Linked DNA regions of Homo sapiens. The protein of the gene in region 1 purifies or fractionates together with the protein of each later gene. This does not show direct contact. Each region holds a gene or a part of one and is shown on either strand. Other genes may lie near its edges.

The links. The genes of interacting proteins can lie anywhere in the genome.
Region 2: the proteins of TPD52 (region 1) and GPBP1 purify together in Homo sapiens (affinity purification with mass spectrometry; one large-scale study listed by BioGRID and IntAct). This does not show direct contact.
Region 3: the proteins of TPD52 (region 1) and NT5DC3 fractionate together in Homo sapiens (co-fractionation; one large-scale study listed by BioGRID). This does not show direct contact.
Region 4: the proteins of TPD52 (region 1) and SEC63 purify together in Homo sapiens (co-immunoprecipitation; one large-scale study listed by IntAct). This does not show direct contact.

What each region holds. Positions count from the first base shown.
Region 1 is NC_000008.11:80,168,765-80,172,826, forward strand, and holds the start of TPD52 (tumor protein D52), read right to left. Parts: upstream 2,801-4,062; 5' UTR 2,680-2,800; coding exon 2,661-2,679; intron 2,358-2,660; exon of another isoform or gene 2,257-2,357; intron 1-2,256. Other genes in the region: TPD52-MRPS28 protein, read right to left, coding at 2,661-2,679.
Region 2 is NC_000005.10:57,177,059-57,180,558, reverse strand, and holds part of GPBP1 (vasculin), read right to left. Parts: intron 1-3,500. UniProt on the Homo sapiens protein: Functions as a GC-rich promoter-specific transactivating transcription factor.
Region 3 is NC_000012.12:103,838,435-103,842,444, forward strand, and holds the start of NT5DC3 (5'-nucleotidase domain-containing protein 3), read right to left. Parts: upstream 2,801-4,010; 5' UTR 2,723-2,800; coding exon 2,515-2,722; intron 1-2,514.
Region 4 is NC_000006.12:107,906,209-107,909,708, forward strand, and holds part of SEC63 (translocation protein SEC63 homolog), read right to left. Parts: intron 2,828-3,500; coding exon 2,719-2,827; intron 570-2,718; coding exon 475-569; intron 373-474; coding exon 240-372; intron 1-239. UniProt on the Homo sapiens protein: Mediates cotranslational and post-translational transport of certain precursor polypeptides across endoplasmic reticulum (ER). Proposed to play an auxiliary role in recognition of precursors with short and apolar signal peptides.

The sequences.
Region 1 (4,062 bases):
GACAGGGAAAACAGAACAGGAGAAAGTGGGAAACAAGAGATGGATTTGGAGGGACACAGAGGTTACTATGGCTGGGGCCTGCTCTTGGACACTTTCCTCACTCATCTTAGGCAGTCAACACATATTTCTAAGCACCTACTGTGTGCACTGGTAACATAAAGATGAAAAGGCAGGTAGGCAGGTGGAAGCAAGAGTAAGGAATGGCCAGGTGGTTTTGTTTTGTGTTTGTTTGTTTTTTGAGATAGAGTCTCGCTCTGTCGCCCAGGCTGGAGTGCAGTGGTTTGATCTAAGCTCACTGCAACCTCTGCCTCCCAGTTTCTAGTGATTCTCCTGCCTCAGCCTCCTGAATAGCTGGGACTACAGGCCGGTGCCACCGCGCCGAGCTAATTTTTGTATTTTTAGTAGAGACAGGGTTCCACCTTGTTGGACAGGGGTCAAACTCCTGGCCTCAAGTGATCTGCCTGCCTCAGCTTCCCAAAGTGCTGGGATTACAGGTGTGAGCCACCGCACCCAGCCTTGGCCACGTTGTTCTAACACAGCAAAGCTTTGGAGTAAATGAACTGACCCTCCCAAGGCAGTGCCTCTTCTTTCATTCGGAGCAGAGTCCTCCACCTCACCCAAAGAACATATGGGAAAATTATAGACACGAAAAGACTCATCTTACAAGATAAAGATTTGAAAAAAATATGTCTTAGAATTAGACACTTAAACTAGTCCTATAAAAACTACACAAGAAGTTGGAATACTGCAGTGCTACCAATGACTGTTGATTCTTACCACCCAAGCTAGAACACAAACACTACTAAAACTAGTTACTCCACTCACGTAAGTAAAACACAGCCGTTTAATTTACTTTGACAAGTACCAAACATAGTTATTCTAAAAACATCATTATGTCAAACGACAGTGTGTAACAGATTAGTATACAAATACACATGGGCACGTTTGTCGTCATGTCTCCCCCGTCCTGCGTCGCCCCCATTGAAAGCCAGACAGACATAATGCTGACTTACATGGTGGCCCCTAAGCCGGCTAACAATATATACAAGACATGTGACAAGCTTTCTAACTCAAACATTTGCATGTCTACTATGTACAAGTCATCATGTTATCCCACTCAGGACAACCAAAGATGAAATGTTTCTAACCTCAAGAAGCTTAAAATTTAGATAATAATATGTATGTGTATATATACGTTATACAGGTAATGTATAATATATATATACACATAGGTAACACATATAAAGCATATTGTATGTAATGTTTGTAAGCACTTGTGTTAAGTCTGAAATTAATCTGAAGGGGAGCGAGGAAAGAGCTGAAAGACTCCAAAGAGTCTATCTTACAAGTAAATGAAAGTAAAGTACAGGCCTGGCCCAGTGGCTCACACCTGTAATCCCAGCACTTTGGGAGGCTGAGGCGGGTGGATCACCTGAGGTCAGGACTTGGAGACCAGCCTGGTCAACATGGAGAAACCTCTGTCTCTACTAAAAATACAAAATTAGCCGGGCTGTGGTGGCGCACACCTGTAATCCCAGCTACTTGGGAGGCTGAGGCAGGAGAATCACTTGAACCAGGGAGGCAGAGGTTGCAGTGAGCTGAGATCCCGCCACTGCACTCCAGCCTGGGCTACAGGTGGAGACTCAAAAAAACAAACAAAAAAAACACCAGAGTCTGAAAAAAATAAAGTACAAGATAGTATATTTGGAATATGGTTTGATTTACATAAAAATGCACACATGACGGCACATACTGGAGGAAAATAAGCAATACATGAAAACTTGTGTCAGGGCTCAAAACAGGAGTGATTCCTATCCTCACTTCCCAAGATTACCTACCTTGTTTTCTTTTTTCAGCATTTATGTATCTTTTTAAAAGCGTGCCACACACATCTGCGTACAGTCACAGGCTTATGATCAGCAGAGATCTCTAGGATGAAACTATTTAAATCTGAAAACCATGGCCTACTATTGCTCTATTTGGGGGTAATTTCACTTGAGCTGTTTTCAGAAGCAAGTGCACCCAACGCTATGGTAAATTAGACTGAAGGTTTTGTGTTGTGGGATTTCACCCTTCCTACGAAAAGCTCTCTTCCCTCAAACCCACAGACACCACTCCACAATCTGGGGGTTTCTAGTATGATAAATATCTGCCTCCCAAACCCCCCATGGGTCATACGCCACCAAAAATCCTAACCACCTGAACTTAGAAGAAGGCAGAAAGTCTTAATTTATGAGGGAGAGAGGGGTTTCCCACCTGGAGGGACGAGAGCGACTCACTGTCCTCTGTTCCTGGTTCCAGTCACTTACAGGAGCTGGCTGCGCCGTGCTCCCTTCACGCGGCTTTCCACCCAAAGCGCATCACGGCCGCCAGCCCCTGACGCTAGCCCCTTCGCCACCTCCCAGAACCTTCTCTCCCTCTCCCCCACACACGCACACTCACACTCACACATGCAGTCCCATCTGCCCCCGCCAGAGCCGCTCCTTCCAGGGCCCCAGGATGCCAGATCCGGATCCGGGAGATGCAACTTGCGGCGCCGGCCCAGGAGGCTCGGCACCTGCTCGAGCCGCCGGGCCGCGCTCAGCCCCGCGCCGAGCCAAAGCCCGAGTCCAAGCCCGAGTCCAAGCCCGAGCCCAAGCCCGCTGGGTCCGCGCCCTCACCTTGCTCGCCGCGGTCCATGTCTCCAGCCCGCCGCCTCGTGTCCTCTGCAGCACCCCCGCCTGCAGCCCGTCCCGGCTCGGATCGCCCGCCGCGCCGCGCAGAGCTCCTCCTCGCCTCCGCCGGCGACTCCCGCGAAGTCCCCACCCCCAGAGGCGTCGGGCGCGGCGGCGCCGCCCGCCCTCGGCCTGGAGCGCTTTCCTGGGGCGTCACCCAACCACCTGACCCGGTCGACCTGTGCGCTCCGCCACGTCGGCGCGGGCGGCGCAGCGCTAGGAGGGCCGGGCGCACCCCGACTCCCGCACCGGCTGGAAGTCGGCCGGGAGGAGGGAAGAGGACGGCGAGGAGATGGACTCGGCCATGGAGGCTGCGTGGAGCCTGCTTGGGAACCGGGATGGCGTTTGCCTTCCACCATCAAGTTATTTATAAAATCAAAAGTTTCCTCCGAGGCCTTGGAGATGCCCTTTCTCTGCATCTGCGAACACCTACTTTCCTATACTTACAGTAGGAAACACAGGAACGTTATTTAGAAATGCCAGTGGCTCTTTTCTCTCTGTATTTTATTACCTAAATAATGCCCTATGATGTCTTCTCTAACTAGGTCATAAACCAGCATAGGTGAAAATTGCAAAGAATCTCTTGAAAAATTATATAGTCTTTTCCATAGAATGCGGATTTTTTAGGTGACTAGGAAGATTTTCATATAATAAAAATCTGTTTTGAGTGCGGGACTGAGGACAACACTAAAATGAATTAAATCAAATGAAATTAATTAAATTAACCGAAGGTCAGAATTATCAGCAGAGATCTTTGGAAAATGCGTGTTGAGGCGTCATGTCCGTTGATCAAAGGACAGTTTGAGGTTCCCGTAACAATCCAGTTCTTTTCATTAGTAGCGTTAACAATCTGTTTTCACAGGGTTTTGCAGTTACTCGTCTTCCATGAAGTCACTTTGATTGTATGGGTCATGGTCTTCAGGTGGTGTCTCAATTTCGTAAGCTATCTGAGGCTGCAAATGAAGTGGGGCTTCTTTTCTGTGTTGCTTGACGTTTAGGCCGAAGCATTGTGTAGCACTCCACAGACAACAAAGAAGCACTTATTCAGATGTTTTAAAATTACTTGTAGTTACCTGAAGTGACTGTATGCTATTAATATCTCTATACTGTCGTGCTGTATGTAAAGTGTAGCTCTCTCCAGCCTGCATCTTCCAGTGTCTTCTGGGGACGTTTACTGTTTGACTCAACCAGATGTGATCTCTTCTATTTGAGTCCTTCTACTCTGACTGCACTTGGCTCCTCTCCTGTGGCACTCACCCCAGCACTGGTGCCAGGATGCTACCAGTGTATGTTTCACAGTCCTATTAGGTTACAAGCTCCAGGTGGTAAAGTCCTTAAAATGGCCTAT
Region 2 (3,500 bases), on another chromosome or scaffold:
TCTACATCAGTACCTTACCTGGATCTAAACGTTACCTAAACATTGATAGATCTAAACGTTGTTACCTAAACATTTGATAAACATTTTTATCAAAAAAGAAACAGAAAAGATGGTTTGGTTAAACAAAGTTAAATAATCTGACCAGGTGCAGTGGCTCACGCCTATAATCCCAGCACTTTGGGAGGCTGAGGCAGGTGATCATCTGACCTGAGGTCAGGAGTTCGAGACCAGCCTGGCCAACATGACAAAACCCCATCTCTACAAAAAATACAAAAAATTAGCTGGGCATGGCAGCGGGGACCTGTAACCTCAGCTACTTGGGAGGCTGAGGCATAAGAATCACTTGAACCCGGGATGCGGATGTCACAGTGAGCAGAGATTGTGCCACTGCTTTCCAGCCTGGGTGACAGCAAAACTCCGTCTCAGAAAAAAAAGTTAAATAATCTGGCCTGGTTTTAAACTCTATCCTCACTTGCTTATTTTACTTTCAGATTAGAAGTCCTCCTCAATTACCCCTTTCTTGTAACTCTCCCCAGTTTTTTTTTTCCTGCTCACTCTTCCTGTTCTTTCCCCATTACTCCTCCCTTCCTCAATTTTAACATATCAGCAGCTTCAAGCACAAAAATCCATGTAACTATTTCAATTCAAAAACAGAGACAAGGGGCCGGGCCCAGTGGCTCTCACCCATAATCCCAGCATATTGGGAGGCAGAGGTGGACAGACATCTGAAGTTAGGAGTTTGAGAACAGCCTGACCAACGTGGTGAAATCCCGTCTTCTAAAAATACAATATTAGCCAGGCCTGGTGGCACATGCGGGTAATCCCAGCTACTCAAGAGGCTGAAGGGGCAGGAGAATCGCTTGAACCGGGGAGGCAGAGGTTGCAGTGAGCCAAGATCACGCCATTGCACTCCACCCTCAGCAACAACTGCGAAACTCTGTCTCAAAAAAACCCAAAAAAACAACAAAAAAAAGACAAGGTAAAACAAAGCTATGCATTTAGCTCCATGCCTGTGGAAACAGGCTATGGGTGAAAGAAAAATACAAGGCCAGGCACTGTGGTTTAGGCCTGTAATCCCAGCACTTTGAGAGGCCAAGGCAGGAGGAACCCTTAACCCCAGGAGTTCGAGGTTGCCTGAGCTACAATCGTGCCATTACACTCCAATCTGGGTGAGAGAGCGAGACCCTGTCTCAAACACACACACACACACAATTTTAGCTAACCAAAGGTATCACCCAAATAGTTACTGCAAATAGCAAAACAGTAATATCTCTTAGTTTATTTCCAAACTCCATTAGCAGTCTGTAATCAACATCAACCAAAGAGAAGCAGTACATGAAAAGAAAAAAATATCAAAGATAATGTTCAAATAAATGAATTAGTAAAGTAAAATCCCCAAGAAGGCAGTGTAAGTATGGCATAGTGCTGAGTATGTGCTCTGGAGTCAGACTGCTTGAACATTTATTTGGTCAAGATTACAATTCTAACAAAGTAACTTTCTCCCAGTCTCAGCCCCCCTAAATCCTAATTTTCTCATCAGTACCACAGTGACTATAATAGTACTTTCCTCACGGGATTAAGAATTAATTAAAATATGCCACATAAATTACACAGCAAAAAAACCATCATCATCTATAAATGTTAGCCACTATGATTATTATTTTTAGACCTACAGTTTAGAAAGGGACAAAAAAGCAAAATATAAAGAGTAGAAAAGATAAAAGGAAAAGTGGTGTTAACTTCTGGGGAAAAGCAGCGTCCAGCAATAGTTCCAATTACCAACGGATGCAACTATTTATTCCAATCTCCAGAAAAATAAAATACTGAAAATATCTGTCAAAACGTTCAAGTAAATCTGTCCTTGAAGAACTGCTGTACGCAAAGTTGACAAATGTTATAGACTATTCACAGATTAAAGTTAATTGCTAAAAACTCTGATCTCTGGAGTAATCTTTATCCTAACACTACTGCTTAGATTAACAATATCAGTAATGGCAATTTAGAAGAAAACAAGGCTGGACGCAGTGGCTCAGGCCTGTAATCCCAGCACTTTGGGAAGTGGAGGCAGGTGAATCATCTGAGGTCAGGAGTTCAAGGCCAGCCTGACCAACACGGTAAAACCCTGTCCCTACTAAAAATACAAAAAATTAGCTGGGCGTGGTGGCGGGCACCTGTAATCCAAGCTACTGGCGAGGCTGAGGCAGAATCGCTTGAACCCAGGAGGCGGAGGTTGCAGTGAGCCGAGACTGCGCCACTGCACTCTAGCCTGGGCACGCGACAGAGCAAGAGTCCGTCTCAAAAAAAGAAAAAATCACAAATAATAAATATTATGTAGTTTTCTAGAAGAATGATCGTTTGACTCCAGTTCAACTTAATCTTATTTAAGATGCATATTGTTAAGCAACTTGAAAAGTCATTGAATTGAGGAATGAACAAAATACATGCTCTCCCAAGTGAAAGGGTGTGGAATGTTCTCACCGATTTTATAAATCAAGGTAGACACTCAATTAGAATTACTACACACAGGTCTGACAGAGAAAACACATATAACCTAGTCTATTATAACAAAGGGAAACACTGAACTCTCTAATATCAATTTCAGAGAAAAAAAACTCTATTTTACATTTACTACCACTTTCACTCTATGGGAGCTAGCAGGATTCAACAGTTTAAGCAAAAAAAAAATTGGTTCAAAATAAGCAACTGACAAGTTATGATGTTAGGCCATCTTGGTAAAGAGTTCAAAAATTGCAATCTCAGCCGGGCGCGTGGGCTCAGGCCTATAATCCCAGCACTTTGGGAAGCCAAGGCGCAAGGATCACCTGAGGTCAAGAGTTCGAGGCTAGCCTGACCAACAAGGTGAAAACCCAGGTCTCTACTAAAAAAAAAAAAAAAAAAAAAAAAAAAAAAGGCAAAAATTGGCCGAGCGTGGTGGCGGGCACCTGTAATCCCAGCTACTTGGGAGGCTGAAGCAGGAGAATCGCTTGAACCCGGGAGGCGGAGGCTGCAGTGAGCCAAAATCATGCCATTGTACTCCATCCTGGGCAACAAGAGCGAAACTCGGTCTCAAATAAAAATTAGTCTTTCGTCTCAGAAAGACAATTAATTGAAATACCCTCTAATTTTAGTTATACTCGTGTTCACTAATATTAACTGCCTAAAAATTAAATTTTGTCATTAGTCAAAGAGAAAAAAAAATTAAATTTTAGTGTATCTCTTTAAAAAACATTAAATGCCTATGATTCACCGAAAAATTAAATGTAGTAACTAACGGTAACTAAAAACACCGTTTAATCCTGAAAAATACAAACATTAAACGATAACTCTCTCACCTGTCAAAACAATTTCTATTATAGCAATTAATTCACAACTTTTTTTAAAAAAAAGCTTTGCTTACAAACTTAGGCCAGCATAACCTCTTGAGTGGAAAAAAAAATGTATACTCATATTTTCTTAAGTTATTTTAAAGGTTCTTAATTCAGCTTGCTCAGTTCCTCTGA
Region 3 (4,010 bases), on another chromosome or scaffold:
AACTCAAGCCTATTTTGACCTCCCAGTTCTCACAGGCAGCAAGCAACAAACCTTATCCATAAATCAGGATGGCAAAAATTTTGCCTGCAGTTTCTTATAAAACTAAACATGCAATTGCCATTTGACCCAGCAATTGTACTCTTTGGCATTTAGAGAAATGAAAATGTATGTTCACACAAAAACCTGTACACAAATGTCTACAACATCTTTATTTGTAACAGCCAAAGACTGGGAGCAACCCAAATGTCCTTTGAACTATGGGTAAATGGTTCAATAGAGTTAATCTGTGGTTAAACAAACAATTAAACTGTTTTATGTACATACCATGAAATAACAGCAAAAAGGAATGCACTATTGATACAATACACATAACACTGGATAAAACTCCAGGAAATTATACTTGGTGAAAAAAAACAACTCCAAAAGGTTACATACTGTATGACTCCATCAGCCTAACATTTTTGAAATGACAAAATTTTAGAAATGGAGAACAAATAGTGCTCCAGGGATTGGGGACAAGGGAGAACATGATGGGGGAGATGGGTGGGGCTATAAAGACCGAATGAGGGATCTTTATGAGGAACTGTTCAGTCCCTTGACTGTGGTGGTGGATACATGAACCTACATGTGAGAAAACTGTACAGAAATACATCTGTGCTCTCATGCATGTGCACACACAAGTACAAATAAAATGACACTCTGATCTGTGGCCTGTATCAATATATACTGTTGTGATAATGTACTACTGTTCTGCAAAATGTTACCACTGGGAGAAATTGGATAAAGTGTATGCCAGATCTCCCTCTATTAGTCCTTTTCTGTTTATTTTTTACACAGGGTCTGGCTCTGCCAACCAGGCCGGAGTACAGTGTTGCAATCTCAACTCACTGCAGTCTCAACCTTCCAGGCTCAAGCGATCCTCCCCAACTCAAGCCTCCCAAGTAGCTGGGACCACAGGTGTGAGCCACGACGCCTGCCTAAATTTTGCATTTTTTTGTAGAGATTGGGTTTTCCTTTGTTGCCCAGGCTGGTCCTGGGCTCAAGAGATCTGCCTGCTTCAACCTCCCAAAGTGCTGGGATTACAGGCGTGAGCTCACACCTGGCCCCTCTATTAATTCTTAAACTGCATGTAAATATACAATTATCTCAATAAGAATTACAAGTTAAAAAAAAAACTTTCCTGCCCAAAAGCTGGGTTTGATAATCTTCTATATTCCTTTCATCTCTTAAGACCTGCAAAATTCCCAATGTCTCCAAAGCCAGTCTTCTTTCCACCATACCACACAACAGCTTCAAAAGCCAAAGCAAAATTAACTCTTGGCAAAGGGAAACTAAGAAAGTAAGCCACCATTTCATAGAATTCTGCATTGCTAGTCATTTTACGTCCCCTCTGAAAATCACTCCAATTTGCTTTTTTCATTAAACTGACTTCTGGCCAAAAAAAATGGAAAATGTGATCCTATAAAACGTTCTTGCTCACCAAATAATCTCTCCCTATCTATGTGCCACCTCCACAACAAGAAGTAACCAATATACAAATTTCGGTTCTGAATCCTCCTTGGAAGCAACAGCGACAATGGATTATTGGTTCCCAAATGGTCAACGGAGCACAGGAAACAGGACAGTGGGTTAGGAGCTGAGACAGTCCCTAAATTCAGGCGTCACCTTGGCCAGGTCATTTAAACCTGAGTCTCGCCTTTCCCATCTATAGAATGGGGATGTGGAACCTCCTTCGTAGATTACAGGAACGATTTAGAGATAATCTACGTGCCCGGCACTGGTATTTATTAGTTCATTAGTAGTAACAACCGAGCCAAGCTCATTTTATGTGCACCTGGCCATGAAGTTCCCATTCACAGCCTTAGAATCCCCTCCTCACCGAGGTTAATGGATAACCCAGAACCTTCCCCACCTGGACCTCTCCTCTTTCAAACACCGCACAGCTCATCTCATCTCATCTCATCTCATCTCATCTCATCTCATCTCATTCCATCCCATTCCATCCCATCCCATCCCATCCCATCCCAACCCACCCCCACCAAAAGGAAAACAGACCAGCCTCGGGATCGGCCACCTCCCCAGCAGCCCCGCTCTTGGGCATCTCTGCGCCAGCCCGACTCGGCTGTTACTATTATTACTATTGATGAGTAACAACACCTAACGGTGCGTGGGAGTGGCCGGCTCCCAAGGGAGGCCTGAGGAACCCCAGCCCCGCGCGGCCCAAAGCCCCTCAGATGCAGATTTCGGGCTAAAAATCCCAAGAATATATACAACAGCTTTCCCGACCGGGGAAAGGCGCGAGTTGTGAAGTTTCTAGAGCGCATTTTTCCCCGTTTCCCCGAGTCGCTCCGCAGGAGCGATGCTGCCTGCGGCTGGGGGTGTGGGCACCGGGGTTCGCGACTGGAGGCCCTGGAGGTCCGCAGCTGGGCTGGTCCGGGTCCTAGGGCGCCCGCTTCCCAGCTGAGCGCGCAGGAGGGGCCCCAGGCGCCGGGGCGGGGTCGCCGCCTCACTCACCTTCTGTGCTTCTCTTCGCCTCCCGGTAGCGCTCCCACAGGTAGCGCTTCATGTCCGGGGCGGTCCCGGGTGCAGTGCACAAGGGCCGGGCGGGGCCCGCACACGGCCGCCCCCGAGCCGCGGTCCCGCAGCCACCCCGCAAAGCCGCCGCTGTCGCTGCCCTCGCCCCGGCCCCGCGTGCCACCACCGCCGCCGCTGCCATGGTCATGCCTGCTGCCTGCTGCCGCCACCGCCGCCGCGCCGCTCTGCGACTGCTGCTGCCCGGCCCAAGATCTACCCGCGCTCTGCCCTGCAGGAGGGCAGCTCCTGCGTCGGAACACGTGGCGGCGCAGGCCTGCCCTCCCGCCGCTGCGGGGCGGGGAGTGGGCGGAGCCGGAGGCGGGGTCTAACGGGGGCGGGGTCGATGGGGAGTGGGCGGGTCTGGGACGGGGGCGGAGACGGGGCGGGGCGGGGCCGGGCCGGGGGCCCCACGCCCAGCCTGCTGCGGTCAATTTCAGGGTGGCGCGGGGGTGGCCGTGTGGTGTGGTGGCGCGCAGGCCACATGGGATGGAATGATGAGGTACGACCCCAGCGCCGCCCGCCCAGCTCCGCCGCACCTTCGTCCTGCCTTCTGGGACTGACCCCCAGCTCTGGCCACAAGGACAGCGCCCCTCCCACCCCAGCTGCTCTGGCCCCGGCCCTAGAAGGTGACCTCTCTCCGCATTAATGGCCTCTGGCAGTCTAATTAATGGCAGTCTGGACCTCCCCTGGATCGTGGGGCCCCTCTGAGACGTCCCCGATCCCCAGCTTAAATTTATCCAGGAGGACCTGTGAGTGGGTGGCTGGGCCGAGGTTCCACTCATGGGCTGATGTCGGCTGGAGGATCCCAGCCCCTTAAGACCTCAGTAAGTTTGAAGGGCCCTCCCATTACACAGCCTGGAAGGCCAATGCCCGCCCCCCGCCTAGGTTTCCGCCTGGCGGCAGAGGTCATTGGAACATGGTCACCCAGCTCCTGCCCCTGCCCACGCTAACGGCTCGGTGCACAGGTCTTCTCTCAAACCTGCTAGGCTCCACCCGTCCTGTGCCTGTGGTTCCACTAAAGCCAAATGAACCGCAACCTCCCTGCCTGGGGGCAATTCTGTGTGGACTGAGTCAGACAGAGCTTCTGCAGGAAAGACTGATGTGGCCCAGCCAGAACCCTGCTGAAAATCGCCGGGCAGCAAGGACTTCCCAAGCTGTCCTGTGGTTACTTAATTTTGAGCAGGTGGAGTAGGGGGAATGGCCCTCAAGGCTGGCACTCTGCCAAGGAGACCATACTGGCTTGTGTGAAATGGGTGGAACACAGTTTAAGACAAATAACCCAAGGCATTAGTGTATGCTCCAGTTGTGGGATGGAGGGGTCTGGAGGTGTTTCATGGAAAAAGGTGGCATCTGGGTTTAAACTACCATTTATTGAAGGCTTGCTGTATGCAGTATCTCATGTAATCCTCTCAGTAATCCTGAAAAGCAGACTCCAT
Region 4 (3,500 bases), on another chromosome or scaffold:
TTTGCCTGCTCTGGCTTTGCCTTCTGCCATGAATAAAAGTTTCCTGAGGCCTCCCCAGCCATGCTTCCTGTACAGCCATCAGAACAATGAGCCAATTAAACCTCTTTTGTTTATATATTACCCAGCCTCAGGTATTTCTTTAGAGCAATGCGAGAACAAACTAATACACACCATTAAGTCTAATTAATTCTGCTGCTTTCATCCCACTAAACCTCTGTAGATACCGGAATCACAAATACCTTCTTCAAGGGTCTCAGGAATTTTCATTCTAGCAAGATGAGACAGTAAAAGAACTCTGGCCTTCAGGCTATATGGGCAGGTAAGTGGAGGCTCATTCTTCTTTAAATTAATGCTGCCAATTTCTCTGATTAGCTAGAATAAATAAAATAATTATTCAAAAACACGCTTTTTTTAAAAAAAGTATTCACTTTAATACTTAACTGCTCATCGGGGGATTTGGGAAATTAGCCTAACCTGTGGTATTAGAATATTATCCGTTGGTCTGCTTGTGGCATCTTTATTATACTGAGGATCAAATTCAGAAGCTCCAGCCAAAACCATGATAAGACCTAACAAAACAAAAGAAATATGAAGGTAAATAAATATGCTCATTCATTAATTCCCCCTCCTGAGATACTTAATTCACTTGAAAGTGAAGCACTTTTCTAAACATGCACAATGCTAAAAATTATCTGAACTCCACTGACAAGTATTTATTTCTTCCATAAAAAAAGTAACATCTCGCTTTTTAAAATGTACACAGTATCAACCACCACAAGTGAACAGAAGTATAGATCAAATAAAGCACACCAAAGCAACTGGAGGCATTAAAATCACTGAAAGTTCCACAGAAACTTTCTATAGAACATCAGTATTCTGTGTGGTATTAATAATTCACGTGAAAAAAGGGGGCCCTATGATTAAATAAAGCTGAAAATAATGTAAACAAGAGTTAAAGGTTTCTTTACTACATGACTTCTCAAGGCCTTTTGTAAACCTAATATGCATTATAATTTTCCAAAAAAATTTTATTATGGAACCCAAGAGGATTTTGTGGAAATACACATGATTAAAACCCTCAGGCCAGTGGTGGCTCACGCCTGTAATCCCAGCACTTTGGGAGGCTAAGGCAGGCAAATCACAAGATCAGGAATTTGAGACCAGCCAGTTTGAGACCAAGCTGGCCAAAATGGTGAAACCCCATCTCTACTAAAAATACAAAAATTAGCCAGGCATAGTGGTGCACGCCTGTAATCCCAGCTACTCGGGAGGCTGAGGCAGGAGAATTGCTTGCACCCAGGAGGCAGACGTTGTGGTGAGCTGAGATTGTGCCATTGTACTCTAGCCTGGGAGATGAGAGAAACTTTGCCTCAGAGAAAAAAAAATCCATGTAATGTACTCACAAAAGGCAGGATAGTATAGAAGTTAAGTGCACAGACCTTGGTATTTTGTCACTTCCTAGCTAAATGACCTAGGACAATATTCTTCATATCTGTGTATCTCAGCTTCTTCATATGTGCCTGACACACAGCAAGCACAGTACTTGTGTGAGCTATTACTATTACTACCCTCAAATGTTTACTTAATAACAACTGTTCCTAAAACAGCTAAAATAACCTAGAATGTGTAAAGAAATCCACCAGCTAAACAATGCTTCTCTGACAAAGCTGTGTAAGGATACCACCCTCAGAAAAGAAACAGAAATCAAAATGATTGAGGCAAAAAGCACACTTAAAATTATAAACATGAAACATTTTCATAAGGGAGTAAGTTTCTGTATTAACATTTCAATCCAGCTTTAGGAAGAGTAATATTTTCGATAAGGCAAAGTAGTATTAACTCATTCAGAAATGTAAAATCTGTTCACACACAGTCATATATGACCATGAGAAGTCTCTCTCATTACTAAGAAAATTAGTAAAATTGCCAAATCCAAAATGCAGAAAAGTCCATTTTGGTCCCGGAGACACAATTCAAAACTTACATTCTTTTATTTTATTTTTTTTTAAAGAGGGATGGAGGAGCAGCTATGATTTTTGCAGAGCCATCATTCTGAAAGGTAACACTCTATCTCCCAAGGATAAACTGCAAAGTTTGCTTTATATAATCAAAGAAAGTGAAAATAGTATTTTTTTTCTTAAATTTTTAAATAAGAACTGGGAATGAAATACTCTAGCACTAGTTTTCTTTCAACACACCTAAGACTTTTTATTTTTACTACAATTAATACACTATAACATAATGGTTTAAGGCTCAAGAACCAGACTGCCTGGGTTCAATCCTGGATATCACTTACTGTGTATCCTTGAGAGTGTTACTTTTCGGTGCCTCAGTTTCCTCATCTATAAGATGTACTGTAAAACAGCACTCACTTACGAGAACACAGCAAAAATTAAATGAGTCAAGACACATACAGTAACTAGCAGTGTCTGGCATACAACAAATAATAAATGTTAGCTAGAATTACAAAATTTGCACGCATAAGGATTATGGTAAAATTTCTGATGAAATATATGAGTAAATGTGAATAATGAAAATATAAATTAAGAAATGTGACAAAGGGTGCTGGCATTTTTCTCTAGCTTTAATTATATAAATTAACTATTTATAAAACTGTACAATAGAATCTCAACAGTATAGAGTTAAGGAATATATATCAACCCCACATAAGTCACAAAACAATGTGATTAATAGCAAAGTTACTTAAAGTTTACTTACGTTTCATATCCATATTTCGGGTTTTATAAACAAAGTATGTATAAATCTGTGTTGTGCGTATTAGAATCTGGTCTCCACTATAGCGTATTGAGCGATACCACCAAGAGCCCTAAAACACAAAAAAAATTAAACAAGAAAGAAAGTATAAAAACTACGATAGGCTGGGCGAGATGGCTCATTCCTGTAATCCCAGCACTTTGGGAGGCTGAGGTGAGAGGACTGCTTGAGCCCAGGAGTTTGAGACCAGCCTGGGCAACATAGTGAGACCCTGTCTCTACAAAAGAAAAAGAAAAATGCAAACATTAGCTGGGCATGGTGGCACATGCCTCTAGTCCCAGCTGCTCAGGAAGCTGAGGTGGGAAGATTGCTAGAGTCCAGGAGGTCAGGGCTGCAGTAGCCATGATCATACTACTGCACTCCATCCTAGGTGACAGAGGGAGACTCTGTCTCAAAAAAAAAAAAAAAGCAAAACAAAACCCTGATAAATGTTAAGTTTGAGGCAGAATATGTTTATGGTCAAATCTTCTAAATATTCATAAAACAATAAAAATACCTGAGTCTTACAACAAGGACCTCTTTCTTGCATATTTCAAGTGATTTCTTTAGCAAATATTTATACTGTCTGAAGCCTAAACACCAACCTAAGTCACTGCATATATATAATCAAAACATTTACCATTTTGGATAGAAATACCTTAAAGACCAAAAAGGGATAAAACTACCCACTGCTATAAGCACCAAGCTGGTTCTTGACACACAGCATGTCTTCAATAAATACTTGA